2 separate regions of the Homo sapiens genome follow, and region 2 is linked to region 1. The links come from fine-mapping of genetic effects on gene expression. Tissue or cell type: left ventricle. Region 1 holds a variant in brackets; the other region holds the start of a gene. All regions are shown on one strand. Distances are from middle to middle.

Evidence for each region. PIP is the estimated chance that this variant, and not a neighbour inherited with it, causes the effect.
Region 2: it holds the start of SYTL5, and the variant in region 1 is fine-mapped to the expression of SYTL5 in left ventricle (GTEx, PIP above 0.99). The same link has a PIP of 0.9 or more in atrial appendage.

The regions. Positions count from the first base shown.
Region 1 is chrX:37,907,093-37,914,785 of GRCh38, forward strand. It overlaps a transcript of SYTL5 not described here. Among named protein-coding and RNA genes, the nearest start is that of DYNLT3, 63 kb to the left of the region's middle. The variant G/A (reference allele first, on the strand shown) is at 3,368.
Region 2 is chrX:38,002,884-38,010,576 of GRCh38, forward strand. It overlaps SYTL5 (synaptotagmin like 5), which reads left to right and starts at 3,670. Exons shown (of 17, transcript NM_138780.3): 1 at 3,670-3,785.

The sequences.
Region 1 (7,693 bases):
TGGTTCATATTGATAACTGATTGCTTTACCATCAAATTGTTTGGTTTGATGCAATGTTAACAAGTGGTCTTAATTCACAACACAGAAGTATTCTATTCCAGAAAACAACCCTGCTGATATGCCTGCCACCCCCACCCCAAAATGCACACACAAAACCATGTTTTTGTCTTGCTTTGTGGGAGAGAAAAATGGATGGGGTATCTTTTCTGGCAGTTGATTAGTCCCCGATCTTTCTTGAATTGTCATTTGTTTTATAACCTATAATTATAGAAAAGAACCCTCCTTGAAATAAAATTAATAAAACCTTACATGTTTAGTCAGATCACAGGAATAATTTTTTAGAGTTGAGTGGAAGCTTCCATGATCCTCTTCCAATGTCGTCCCCGGGGAGCCGTTAAGCTTCCCACTTCTCTGATAACATAACTCCTCTACTCTACATACCTCTATCTTAGCTCTTACCACCTTATGATTCTAGGTTTACATATCCATCTTGCTTAGAGTAATAAAATTTATTTGGAAGCAAGGGTAATGCCTTATTAATCTTTGTATCCCTGGAGCCTAGTAAAGTAAGGTCTGTTGAAAAAAAATGAATGAATAAAATAATTTGGCAGTCCAGATTAGGTTTACCATTCCTTGAAATCCACCTGTGCATTCTTTCTCTTCACTCCTAAAAGATAAGTCATTTAATTCAATGGTACTCAAAGTGTGGATCCTCAGAATACACTGTGTTCTAAATAAATGAGAGTTTTCTATATTTGAAAAAATCTATATATTGTTGTGAACTTTAATATTTAATTTTTTATTTTTTATTTTTTATTTTTTTGCTGAAAGTAACAGAAAAGCCAACTAAACATGGCTTGTAATACTACAGAAGTTTAGCTGGGCGCAGTAGCATGTGCCTGTGGTCCCAGCTACACAGGAGGCTGAGGTGGGAGGATCCCTTGAGCCCAGGATTTTAAAGCTGCAGTGAGCTATGATTGCACCACTACATTCTAGTTTGGGTGACAGGGTAAGACCCTGTCTCTAAAGAAAAAAAAAAAAAACAAAGAAAATAGAGAAGGCTGACAGTAGGTAATAACTGGAGTTGATACAGTGACCCAACAATATCAGGGTTCTGAGTCAGTGTCTTACCCTCATGGCTTCAAGATGGCTCTAACAGCTCAAGACACTCGGTCCTAATCCCATGTTCAATGACAGGAAACGGGGTGGAAAAGGTCAGAGTATTTTTCCTCATGCAACTTTCTCATCAGAGAAAAAATATCCTTCCCCAAATTTATCTAACAGAATCCTACTTTTATCTCATTGGCAATATCTGGGGCACATAGCTGCCCTTAGTGGCAAAGGAGACTGGGAAAGTATCCGTTTTTTCAGCTTCTATAGTGGAAAGGCAGCCAGGGAGAGGCAGGTAGGTGATGTATTTGGGGAACTGACCAGAAAGTCTTCTAGACTGTCAAGAAAATAAGTCTTTTTGAACCTGTGATCGTATCAATGTTCTGGCCAAGTAAAATACTAAATATTAATCAATGTAGCAAAAGCACACATTTAGAGCAGATTTCCCCTCTCCACATGGGTATATGGTATTTTAAGGGTGCCAAATCACTTTTATGGAGTGTGCTAACTTTTAGAGACTGCACCTTGCCTGTGTGTGTGTGTGTGTAATCTCATAGGGTTTCTATTAAGTATGGATCAAACCCTCAAGTTCCTGGAAAAGAGTAAATATTCAGTAAATAGTTGTCCTTTGAGTGGAGTGTTGAGTTTGGGAGCTTCAAAACTTCACAGGGACATGGGAAAGGATTTAGTGAGGAAAAAAAACTGATGAGTGGTTTGCTGCCAATGCCTTGGAAGGCTGGTTTACAGCATCTGAATGTCTTTAATTTGGATCCTAGGAGCCTGGAGGGAAACTTAACAAGAGGGAAAAGAAGAACCTAGGGAGAGGTAGTGGCACTGACAACTTGGTTCAACAGATTATCTTTGGGGACCTTCTCTATACCTGTACTGGGGAAGATGTACTACTGCCCCCCTCCCCCACACACAGTTCAAAATGGTCCCTAGCACACACACACACACTAAAACTTAAAAAGTTGAAGCATGAAAAGAGTGTATATTATTGCCCGCTTTGATTTAACTTTCTCTTTTCCAGTAGAATATTCTCTCAAATACTTACAGAAGGTAGTTTTTGGACATCATGGTGGGAGATCAGATAAGCAAGTATCGAGAGATTGAAATTTAATGATTACAATTGTCTTAGATTTCTCATCAATGAAAAGAATGGAGTAGATCAAGCTTGTCCAACCTGTGGCTTGCAGGCCACATGCAGCCCATGACAGCTTTGAATGTGGCTCAACACAAATTTGTAAACTTTCTTAAAACATTATGAGATTTTTTTTCAATTTTTTTTTTTTAGCTCATCAGCTATCATTAGTGTTAGTGTATTTTATGTGTGGCCCAAGACAATTCTTCTTCCAGTGTGGCCCAGGTAATCCAAAAGACTGGACACCCCTGGAGTAGATTAGCAGTGGTATTCAAACTTTGTTGCACATTAAAAATTACCTGGGGAGGTTTTTTTGTTTGTTTGTTTTCTGTTTTTATTTTTTTTTTTGAGATGGAGTCTCACTGTTGTTGCCCAGGCTGGAGTGCAATGGCGTGATCTCAGCTCACTGCAACCTCTGCCTCCCAGGTTCAAGCGATTCTCCTGCCCCAGCCTCCCAAGTAGCTGGGATTACAGGCACCTGCCACCACACGCGGCTGATTTTTGTATTTTTAGTAGAGACGGGGTTTCACCATGTTAGCCAGGCTGGTCTCCAATTCCTGACCTCAGGTAATCCACCCGCCTCAGCCTCCCAAAGTGCTGGGATTACAAGCCTGATTCATCATGCCTGGCTGGAGAGGTTTTTAAAATCAAGATTTATGAGCTGATCCTCAGACCACTTAAATTGGAACCTCTGGGAATGGAACCCAGGTATCAATATTTTAAAAACTCCCTAGATGACTCCAACATGTGCCTGAGTTTGGAAACTATATTAGTTTGCTAGGGCTGCCATTCAAAGGACCACAGACTGGGTGATTTAAGCAACAGAAATGTTTCTTCTCACAGTTCTGGAGGCAGGAAGTCCAAGATCAAGGGTTGGTTGATCCTGAGGCCTCTCTCCTTCACTTGCACCTGACCATCTTCCCCCTGTATCTTTACTACAGTCTTTTCTCTGTGAATGTCTGTGTCCTAATCTCTTCTTATAAGGATGCTGGTCATATATTGTGTCAGGGCCTAGTCTAAAGAGCTAATTTTAACTTGATTACCTCATCAAAGGCCTTATCTCCAAATAGTTATATTTAGAGCCCCTGAAGGCTGGGACTTCAACATGTGAATTTG[G/A]GGGAGACACAATTCAGCCCATGAAAGAAACCATTGGACAAGTACAACATTTCTCAAACTTTAATGTGCGCACCAGTCACCTGGAGGCCTTATTAAAATTTAGATTCTAATCCAATAAGTCTAGGTGGGGTCTGAGATTCTGCAGTTCTAACAAGCCCCTAGTGATTTCAATGTTACCAGTTTACAGATCATACTTGAAGTAGCATGGTTCTGTCTAGATGAGTGGTTCTCAAACTTTAATGGACATCGGAATCACCTGGAGAAATTGTTAAAAGCAGATTGTTATGATCCAGCCCCAGAATTTCTGATTCCATAGGTGTCGGGGTAGAGCCCAAGAATTTGCCTTTCTAACAAGTTCCTGGATGATGTTGATGCTGCTGGTGTAGGGATGATACATTGCAAACCATGTATCTCTGACATTTTGAGACTTTATGGTATTGGATGAGTCAGGGTCATTACATACATCATTGTATGTGAAGTTTGTAATTCTAATTGCTGATAGCATTACTTTTTTTTTTTTTTTTTGGACAGAGTCTCACTCTGTTGCCCGGGATAGAGTGCAGCGGCGCCATCTCAGCTCACTACAACCTCTGCCTCCCAGGTTCAAGTGATTCTCCTGCCTCAGCCTTCCGAGTAGCTGGGATTACAGGTGTCTGCCACCATACCCAGCTAATTTTTTAAAAAATATTTTTAGGAGAGACGAGGTTTCAGTATGTTGGCCAGGCTGGTCTTGAACTCCTGACCTCGAGTGATCTGCCTGCCTCGGCCTCCCAAAGTGCTGGGATTACAGGTGTGAGCTACTGTGCCCGGCCAGCATTACATTTTTCTTTTTGCCAAGCATAATTACTTTTTCTGTTAATAGGACGAAGGATGAGAAAGTGGGAGAAAATGCTGTATTGGGATTTCTTTTAATCTCATACAAATAGAAGTGAATAAATACAGAGGCTACACATCAGCCCATTAGTCTCTATTCATGTTTGTTCTCCAATCATAGAGCTATTTTGCAGCTTGCTCTTCTAGAAGCTCAAAGCTGATTTTATGAGATTGGTTGCATACTTCTCATATGCGATTTTTAAAGGATTAACCATTCTAGAGATTTCATGGGGCATTGCAAATTTCCCCCCTAAAACATTAATTTTAAATTATTTCTAATTTAATCACACAATTGTTTCTACACGAGACCAACAGTGAGCTACATCAAAGAGTATCCCCTCCCCAAAATTATTGGATATGAAGAAAATATTTTACCTGACTTCATAGAATTAAATCGGTAAAATTCACATTTTGTTACTGTTATTAGAAAATTTGATATATATATATGTGCTATATATAGGTGATATATATACACACACATACATATACGTACATGTATATTGTATACACACAGGTTATGATTTTCTATTTGCTTAATTTAAAGCATTTTATGTTATTTTAAATTGTTCTTAAAGCTCTATTTATATCTCCATATGAAACAGTGAAAATATTTCTATTTTAAACTTAAAAAGGTATTCAACTTGTAATCCAATAAGTATTTTAAACAAAGATGTAATCAGGTTTCTAGCTGCCCCATTTACTCTGGGCCTATTATCTAAAGAATGGGTCTTGCTAAAGTATTTCCCTTACAACTTTTCCAAAGTTATGCCAGATGTATAGGGCTTCTATTAAGAATAGATTTACTATGCCATAACTGTTTTGAGTTTACCCTCATAGCTTTCCCACATGTTCCACATTCTTGGTGAATTTTTCCAGTAATGCACCTCCCAGCACTGTCAATGGGAAGAGGTTACCTGTCATGTTTCTAGCCTGAGCTTCTGACCACCAGATAACAGAAGCCCAATTGTGGAGATGGATACAACAAGCCCAATGCCGTTAAAGATCTGAACTGTATAATTAATTCTGTTTCTCCTGACTTCATGCTCAGCAGTCAGCCTTAGGATGCCACATGTTCATTGCCTTCAGGGTGAGAATAACCTGGTCAGAGTGTCTGGTCTCCCTGACAGTTATATCTCCCATTGTAAATTACTAAGCCGCCACTCTAGCTTTAAACACTTATGAGTGTTGTGGGTGTGAGTCAGCACCCAACACCCTCAAACCTAATAAATACAGGGACACTGATAAAGATCAGTTATCTGGGGGTTGGCTCAAAGCTAGGCCCTGATGCTGATGACTCATCGAAGTGAATTAATACCAGCTAGCATTTATTAAGTATTTTCTGCATACCAGCCACTGTGCAATTTTATTTATATTATCTTATTTTTCCTCATAACAACTTTGTGAGGTAGTCATGTTAATTTCCATTTTACAAATAAGAAGACTGATATATGTATATTAAAAACCTGCTCTAAATCAAATGACTATTGTGGCAGGGACTTTGAGTTGCCATGCAATATCTATTCCCACCTTCTCCCTTAGTGGCAGAATACCAGTTTTATTACTGGTAATGATGTATCTAGCAAATAGTTTCTATTTCCTGGCATCCCTTGTATCAAGGTGTGAACCTATGACTGAGTTCCACCAGTGAGAGGTAATTGTGTTGTGTGGTACTTCTAGGAAGCCTGCTTAAAGGGATTTGACTTGGCTGGGAGGAGGGCCCTTTTGTACCTCCCCCTTCTTCCTCCTGCTGTTAGTCTTGAATGCAGGCATGATGCCTGGAGCCATCTTGGACCATGGAGTGACTGACTGGATGTAAGCTAGCATTAAAGATGCTGGAACAGAAAGGTAGAAGAAATCTGGGCCTGTGGTGGCACCATGGAGCTACTGTGCCAGCTCTACCACAGAGATCTTTGTCTGCTATTGAAACCAATTGGCATTCTGTCAGCAGAGATGAAAGGTAGAGTTGGCTATTGGTAGGCAGTGGACAGTGTTTTCATGCTATATACCAAGTACCTAATATTTGATCTGTGATAGATACATGTGTTTGAGTTTCATCTCTGCCACTTACTAGCTATGTCTATTGGACATCTTTTGTGCCTCACTGCACAGCCTTATAGCCTACCATTTAATTAAGCCGTTAGTCCATTAACCAGCTTTATGTGGGTAAAACCAGAGAGTGCCTTGCCTTAGCCTCACAGCAAATATCTCACTTCTCACTCCAGGACTTCTTTGATGTTTCAACAGGAAGGCCTGTTGGAACACTCTTGTACCCACACATGTGTGTTATGGAATGTGAGGGAGTTAAAGGCCCAAGAGCCAACCCTTGACCAATGTGAGATGGGAACCTAAGATAAATAGTCCCTCCTCCATCCTTGGCCTGATAATTCTCAATTGCCTTTTAATAGTGTTTGTTTCCAAGAGATTCTCAGAGGGTCTAACTAAGTAGGATTACGCCCTAGTTGTTTACAGTTGTGACCAACTCAAAAATACACTCCCGTATTGGTTTTCTCTCTTCTTTTCCTTTCCTGAATTTCCTACTTCTATTCCCTAGTATCACTTCCCCAAACAAACTACCTACATTGAAACTCTTGTTTCAGCCTCTGTATAACCTTCTGTGTAACCTTGAAGTAAGCTATGCTGACAAAACTTTTTAGCACTTGCTGACATTTTTATGTCCCTTCTATGATGAGGCAAAATACTATCTTTGGTGTACAAAGATGAAAATACATCATGAGATCTGATAATTCCAACTATTGTATGAATGTGGATCAATAGGAACTCATACTTTATTGATAGGAGTACAAATTGGTACCATTCTGGAAAAGAAAATTTAGTACTGTCTTGTGAAGTTGAACATTTTGCATACCCTATGACCTAGCAACTTTATTTCTAGGTATATCACCTAGACAAATACTCCTACATGTGAAGCAGGAACTCTCCTTAGGAATGGCCATAGCAACATGGTTCATAATACAAAAATTCTGAAATAATCTAATTGTCCATTGATGGAAAAATGATAAATAAATTTGGTATTAATTATTATTTCAACAGAGTAAAAATGAATTAACCATTTCTCTATGCAAGAACACAGATGCATATTATTAACAAAATCACCAAAAACTTCATGCAGTTGGGTATCATTTTTATAAAGCCCAAAAAAAAGCAATACTACACAACACATTCTTAGGAATCATACACACATGATAGATCCTAAAACAAGGTGAACCCAAAATTCAGAATAGTACTGGGGAGACAGAGATGGGATAAGGTAGGAGCAGATAGTAGAGGTACGAACATTGATGATGTTCTGGGTCTTGAATGCGGTGATGGGTTCATAAAGGCTCATTTAGTATTACTCTTTATAACTTATTTAAATTGATACAGATTCTTTTATATACATCAGATTTTATGTAATAATTTAAAGAAATGAAACCATCACCAACAAAGATGCTG
Region 2 (7,693 bases), 96 kb after region 1:
TGTCAATTTTGTCTTTTGTTGCCATTGCTTTTGGTGTTTTAGACATGAAGTCCTTGCCCATGCCTATGTCCTGAATGGTATTGCCTAGTTTTTCTTCTAGGGTTTTTATGGTTTTAGGTCTAACATTTAAGTCTTTAATCCATCTTGAATTAATTTTTGTATAAGGTGCAAGGAAGGGATCCAGTTTCAGCTTTCTACATATGGCTAGCCAGTTTTCCCAGCACCATTTATCAAATAGGGAATCCTTTCCCCATTGCTTGTTTTTCTCAGGTTTGTCAAAGATCAGATAGTTGTAGATATGCGGTATTATTTCTGAGGGCTCTGTTCTGTTCCATTGGTCTATATGTCTGTTTTGGTACCAGTACCATGCTGTTTTGGTTACTGTAGCCTTGTAGTATAGTTTGAAGTCAGGTAGCGTGATACCTCCAGTGTTGTTCTTTTGGCTTAGGATTGACTTGGCAATCTCCTTAAGCTGATAGGCAACTTCAGCAAAGTCTCAGGATACAAAATCAATGTACAAAAATCACAAGCATTTTTATACACCAATAACAGACAAACAGAGAGCCAAATCCTGAGTGAACTCCCATTCACAATTGCTTCAAAGAGAATAAAATACCTAGGAATCCAACTTACAAGGGACGTGAAGGACCTCTTCAAGGAGAACTACAAACCACTGCTCAATGAAATAAAAGAGGATACAAACAAATGGAAGAACATTCCATGCTCATGGGTAGGAAGAATATATATCGTGAAAATGTCCATATTGCCCAAGGTAATTTATAGATTCAATGCCATCCCCATCAAGCTACCAATGACTTTCTTCACAGAATTGGAAAAAACTACTTTAAGTTCATATTTTGAGTTTTTAAAGGAACCTTCAAACTGTTCTCTAGAGTGGTTGTACTAATTTGTATTCACACCAACAGTGTACAAGTGTTCCCTTTTCTCCAAATCCTCACCAGCATTTGTTATTGCTTCTCTTTTGGGTATAAGCCATTTTAACTGGAGTAAGATGACATCTCATTGTAGTTTTGATTTGCATTTCTCTGATGATCACTGATATTTAGCACCTTTTCATATGCCTTTTTGCCATTTGTATGTCTTCTTTTGAGAAATGTCTATTGAGATCCCCTGCCAGTTTTTAAATCAGATCATTATATTTTTCCCTATAGAGTTATTCGAGCTCCTTATATATTCTGGTTATTAATCCCTTGTCAGATTGGTAGTTTGCAAATATTTTCTCCTGCTCTGTAGGTTGGCTCTTCACTTTGTTGATTGTTTCCTTGCCATGCAGGAGCTTCTTAACTTGATGTGATCCCATTTGTCACTGTTTGTTTTGGTTGCCTGTGCTTGTGGGGTATTACTCAATAAATCCTTGCCCAGTCAAATGTGCTAGAGAGGTTTCCCAATGTTTTGTTTTTGTTGTTTCATAGTTTGAGGTCTTAGATTTAAATAGTACAATCGCATGGAGAACCGTTTGTAGGTTCCTCAAAAAATTCAAAATAGAGCTACCATATGATCCAGCAATCCCACTCCTGAGTATATACCCAAAAGAAAGGAAATCAGTATATTCAAGAGATATCTGCACTCCCATGTTTACTGCAGCACTATTTACAATAGACAAAATTTGGAAGCAATATAAATGTCCATCAACAGATGAATGGATAAAGAAACTGTGGTACATATACACAATAGAGTGCTACCATCTATAAAGAAGAATGAGATTCTGTCGTTTGCAACAACATGGATGGAACTGAAGGTCATTATGTTAAGTCAAATAAGCCAGACACAGAAAAAAAATTTTGCATATTCTCACTTACTTGTGGGAGCTGAAAATGAAAATAATTGAACTCATGGAGATAGAGAGTAGAAATATGGTTACCAGAGGCTGGGAAGGGTAGTGAGGTGCTGGGGGGAAGTAGGGAGGATTAATGGGTACAAAAATAGAAAGAATGAATAAGACATAGTATTTCTTAGTACAACAGGGTGACTATAGTAAAAATAATAATTTAATTGTGCATTTTAAAATAATGAAGACAGTATGATTGTATTGTTTGTAACACAAAGGATAATTGCTTGAGGCTATGGATACCCCATTTACCCTGATGTGATCTTTATATATTGCAAGCCTGTATCAAAATATCTCTGTAACTCATAAATATATACACCTACTATTTTTCCATAAAAATTACAAATAAAAAATCCTAAAACTCAGCCCTTACAAGATCTGCAGGGGAGACAGAATTTGTAGGTTGATCTCCCAAATTCATCAGGCTTGGAAAGGACCTTAGACTTTCTGCATAACTACATTAGCAAAACCAAACCAATTCTATGGAAATGCCAATATTAATAGAACAAATATTAATACTCCTCAGAGGGAGATAGCAGAGTCTTTACACTATATGATCCCCATTGTCCAATATGCAATAAAAAAATTCAACATGCAAAGAAACAAGAAAATATCACCTATTGTCATAAAATCAGTAGAAACAGACCCAAAAATGTCCAGTTGTTAAACTTCATAGAAAAAGACTAAATCAATTATTATGTATTCAAAGAACAAACAGAAAATAGGTTCAAAGAATGAAAGGAAAATATGATCTTTATAAATGTACAGATAGTGAATTTCAGCAGAGAAATGGAAACTATAAAAATAACCACATGGAAATTTTAGAGCTTAAAAAATTATAGTAACTGAAATTAATAACACACTAGATGGGCTCACATTAGTTTGGAGATGGCTAGCATCAAATGAGCTTGAAGACAGATCAAAAGTAATCATCCAATCTGAAAAAAATGGAACAAAACATGTATCTCTAAACTTTTTAAAGGTGTTGTATTGACTTCTTTTGTATGAGTTTTTTAACATAAGAAAGTAATAACTCTCTTGGTACTTCAAGCTAGACTCACGTTTTCGATTCTCCAGGACACCACCTTTGGGGTTCCCCACTGTAGCTAAAAGGGACCTGGCTATGGTAACATAAATGGGTAATCACCTTGGCAGAAGTGATCTTAACAAAAATTTCACTTACTTCAACTAAAGATTCAGTACCATACAAGCACTGAGAAAACCTCACTCATTCTCTAATGTTCAGCTGAGCAATCACATACTGTTACACATTTGTCTTCTAAAAGTCATACATACATAGCACAGTGCTATGATTAGATACCTGGACTATGGTTATGGAGTGCCTGGATTTAACTTTTGACTCCAGTACTTACTAACTGGGTGACTGTGGGCAGACTACTTAGTTTGTTCATTTGTAATATGGGGATAATAATATTATACACCTAACACATTTGGAGAATTATTGGAGAGGATATATGTAAAGCACTTACAACAGTGCCTGGCACATATGTGTTCATTGTTATCACGTTTCTCCCAGGTTTTTTAAGAATAGAGATTTTCAGGGGTAGAAGAATATTAAAAGAGTGAATCACCTTTAAAACACTGGTGTAAAAAATACCTCATGTCAAAAAATGTTTAAAATGTGCTTTAGATGAAACCTGTTACCTTTCCCCTGCTGATCAACAGAGACATTCCTTTTTGAAAGCTCAGCTTTAGAGATACTGCCTTCTTCTTGAAATAGCTGTCTGCAACAGATAAACATTACTCTGTGCTACTGGGTGTGTTCAATGTGTAAATAGATTGTGGGAATATGAGAGGCTGGTTTTTCAAGTTCCTGCTCCAAGTAGTTCACAAGGGTCAAGTAGTCCAGCATTCTACAGTTTGTGTGTTTGAGAGAAAAATAAGCCCATAAAAACATTCTAACCTTCAGATTAAGGTAAGACTAATGCGTTTAGGGATCTCCAGTGTGATATCTGATTTCTTAATTTCTGTATTTTGTGTGTGGTAGGGGAGTAGTGGGATTTGCTGGTCAGGAAGAAAACAGCTCCTTCCACCATTTGATATTGTATTTTACAGTAAAAAAGGGAGAAATATGTACAGAAGGGACATTTTGGCCATTGGTAGCTATGAGTTTAATGGATTGAGGAGAGAAATATAAGTATCTTTTTGTTATTAACACTTGATTCTATCTATGAAGTGAAGCATTGCACTAGGTTCTACTGAAGAGTGAGTGCCTCCAGGAACAAATATGCATTCTAGTGACATAAAAAAATCAAATTCACAGCAGAAGTGTTGCATCATTTTGCTATAAATCTCTCACACCTCTCTATATAAACCTCTCACATCTCTATATAACATAGATTGTCCTTTTGCTCTGAATTTCTTTCATTTATTAGAAAATTTAGATGTTTCATTTGGAATTATTTAATTGTTTTTACATTCAGTTCCATTTTTGATATGGACAAATATCCAGTATGGATATAAATTCAGTAGAAGGATTAATAAAGTCTGAAAAACCTGGAATAATTTCAACATGAATATGATACTGTAACAGCTTACAGAAATGCGATATTAACTGTGAACATTAATATACTCTGAAAAGATGCATCAGGGTTTAAAAAATTTCTCCTTAATGTAGATTGTTTTAATTACCAATACTGTCTTCCTCATTTAAATGAAAAACGTAATTTTACAACTATTAATATATAACTTCTCTTTGCTCCAAGTATATGTGTATGCCTGGAGAAAAGCATATGCCTGGAGAAAACAGGAGTTATATATTTATAGCATTCAAAATAGTATAAAATATTGTTTACATGTAATAATGCATTTAGAAGTACTACTTCAGTAGTAGCCTCCTTAAAAAGTATTTTAAACACAGGAATTAAGTATATAATTTTTTCATTTTGTAATAAGTTGTTTATATGTTATTTGGACAACAGCTTACACACAAAAGTGTTACAATTCATACCCTAGGTCTTAAATGCATGAAGCCATTTGTTTGGACTCTAGTGAAATCCTTAAATTGGTCCTTGCATCCCTCAGTATATATATGTACATACCCACATATACATGCATATTTACATGTGGGCAACTAATAACTGAGAAAATGTCTTACTGCTCTTTTAGTTGTTGAATCATGCTTTTTCTATGTATTTATGATTTCCTGAAATTCTTTGCTATTTTAAGTTTGGGTATTAGCTATGTTATCCTTCTATTTATTCAGATTTGTTAAAGTCTTCTGATAGGTTTAGTGAATAAAATTATTGAGCTTCTACCTCTTTTCTTTTGGAGGCCCATTTAGTATTTTTGTTGAAATTACTTCCTTATTATTATTTAGTATGTTAAGGGAAGGAAAAGGAAATGTAGCTTTAATATGTAAAATGAGCAGTTCGTTTTACTTAAGCTCTATTATATGATGATGTATCTTATGACTATTTTGCCATCCTGCGTAAGCACTTAGCTAATCATCTTTAATACATTCTACTTAAAATCTACTTGTAAATATGCTTTTGTACATTCATATCTTACTTGTCTGTGGTCTCTCATCCTCTTTCTCTCTCACCCCTCTATATACATTCACACATTTTCCATGATTTCACAAAACTTCTCTCCAACCTCGTTCCATTCCTGGTTATCTCTTTCTGTGGGGAGTATCATCATTTCCTTTGACCTCTGTTTCTCTACATCTTCCATCTTGCTTAGCCCATGGACTTTTGATTTTACTGAAGACAGCAAAAAAGCAGATGGTGCTTCTGTTACTTGCAGAGTTAGCAACCGCTGTGGTTACCTTAGGTTCTGAAAGATTATCTAAAATAGGGAGGAGCTCCTAGAGGAACAAAATATAATAAACATGTAGTGTACTGGGATAAAAAATTCACTTGATCTGGTCTCTCTCTCCTTTTAACAAAAACATTTCTCTAAGAAGTGATTAATAAAACATACCCTACTGCCTCACTTTCTCTTTTAAAATCTTTCTTTCAAATTCCCCTATGACATAAAATCAATCTTCATCACTTTATTGACACTGTACTTCCAAGGGTCACCTGTAGTGCTGCTAGGAAATTCAAGTACATTCATTTATTTATGTATTCATTCATCCATTCAATAAATATTTATTTAGTGACAGCTATGCATCAGGCATTGCTGAGCACTGAAGTTACAGTAGGGAACACTTAAGTCTGCCTTTATATATCTCCAGTCTAGTTAGGAAGGGTGTTAACTCACCCAAATAATTCATTACAAGTGTGATAAGGGCTATAAGGAATACTTTTCCAAATTCTCATTTTATTCATCCCCTTGGCTCTATGTGACACACATGATCAATTCCTACTTCTTAAATTTTCTCTTTCCTTCTTGTCCATGACTCTATACTATTTATTCAACTGCTTTTCTACCACTTCCCTTCTTGTCTATTTTTCCTTTTCTCTTCCTTAAGTTTGGGTTTCCCTCAAAGGTTTAGCATTTATTTAGCCTATAACCTATTACGTTTTGCCTTTCTCTATAACTTCTTATCAACCCTTAGTTTTAAATATCACCTCTAAGTGGATACCTCCAAGACTTCCATTTCCACATCTTATCTTTTCCATCTGCTATACATTTTCCCACTTGTATGTCCAAGGGTCACTCGACATTCATCATGATTGTAGCCAAACTCACAGCTTTTATGTCAAACCACTTCCCCTTTCATTTCATTTGTTTCTGTGAATGGCATTAATGATCTCTTGGTTTCTCACATTTGAAATCTTGGAGTCAATTTTGCTTCTAACTTTTCCTTTGCTCTCAATATCCAAACCACTACCAAGTCCATTCATTTCTTTAATTATAATGTATCTAGAAGCCATCCTCTCTCATCTCCCTTTTCTGTTATTTTTTTCTTTTATTCTCTATTTTCTCATCCTTTTTTCCCTCAGTCTAAGAGCTACCTACAATTCAAGGTTTTGGTCAGGCCCCATCTCCATCAGAAAGTCCACACCTCATGGATATCTTCTTTTTCTAAGCCCCAGAATCATTGGGGTAGTGAAAAGAACATAGCCAAAGAGCCAGGTTTAAGTTTTGATTCTACCATTCACTGCCCCCTGTGCACTCTCTGTGAACCACAGTTTCCTCAGACTCATTCTATCTCATATAGTGGCCACAGGAACAAATATAGTCATGGAGAGGAAATCATTTTGAACTATGAAGAACTATATAGATATTAAAGTAAGATTTGTTGCTGGAAGAATAACTCAGTAGCAGAGACCAAAACCCCAGGTCTTAACTATTGAAATCATATTGTGCAGGGGTTGAGAGTGTTGACTCTGCAGTCAGATGACCTGAGTTTGAATCTCAGCTCTGCTACTTACCAGCTGCATGAAATTGAGAAAACTTAGTTAGCTTTCCTGTTGCTGAGTTTCCTCACTGTCAATTGGGGATAACAATAGTTTCTACTGATAAGAGTGTTGTAGGATTAGAACGTTTAGTAAATGTAAAATACTTAAAATAGTGCCTAGCTCATAGTAAGTGCTCTGCAAATGTGGAAGAGGTGGTAGGGGCCTATGAGGCTAAGTGTGGTTACGAGGTGAAAGCCAGGTATTAGAACTGAGCCACCAGATGGGGATTAGGTACAGCAAGGATGCAAGCACAGAGCTACAGACTGGACACATGTACCTAGATGAATCCCTCATGATTCAGATAAAAAAAAGAATGATCTTGCCATTTGGGGCAGAACTGAGCAAATGATGGAGGTATGAACGTTCTGAGCGACCATTCGGGGCACAAAAATGGGGATAACAGTCTTTCAGACACATTTTCTTTTTGTTAAAGAAGAACAAATGTTAGATTGCCCTTTTGTGTTGTGAAATA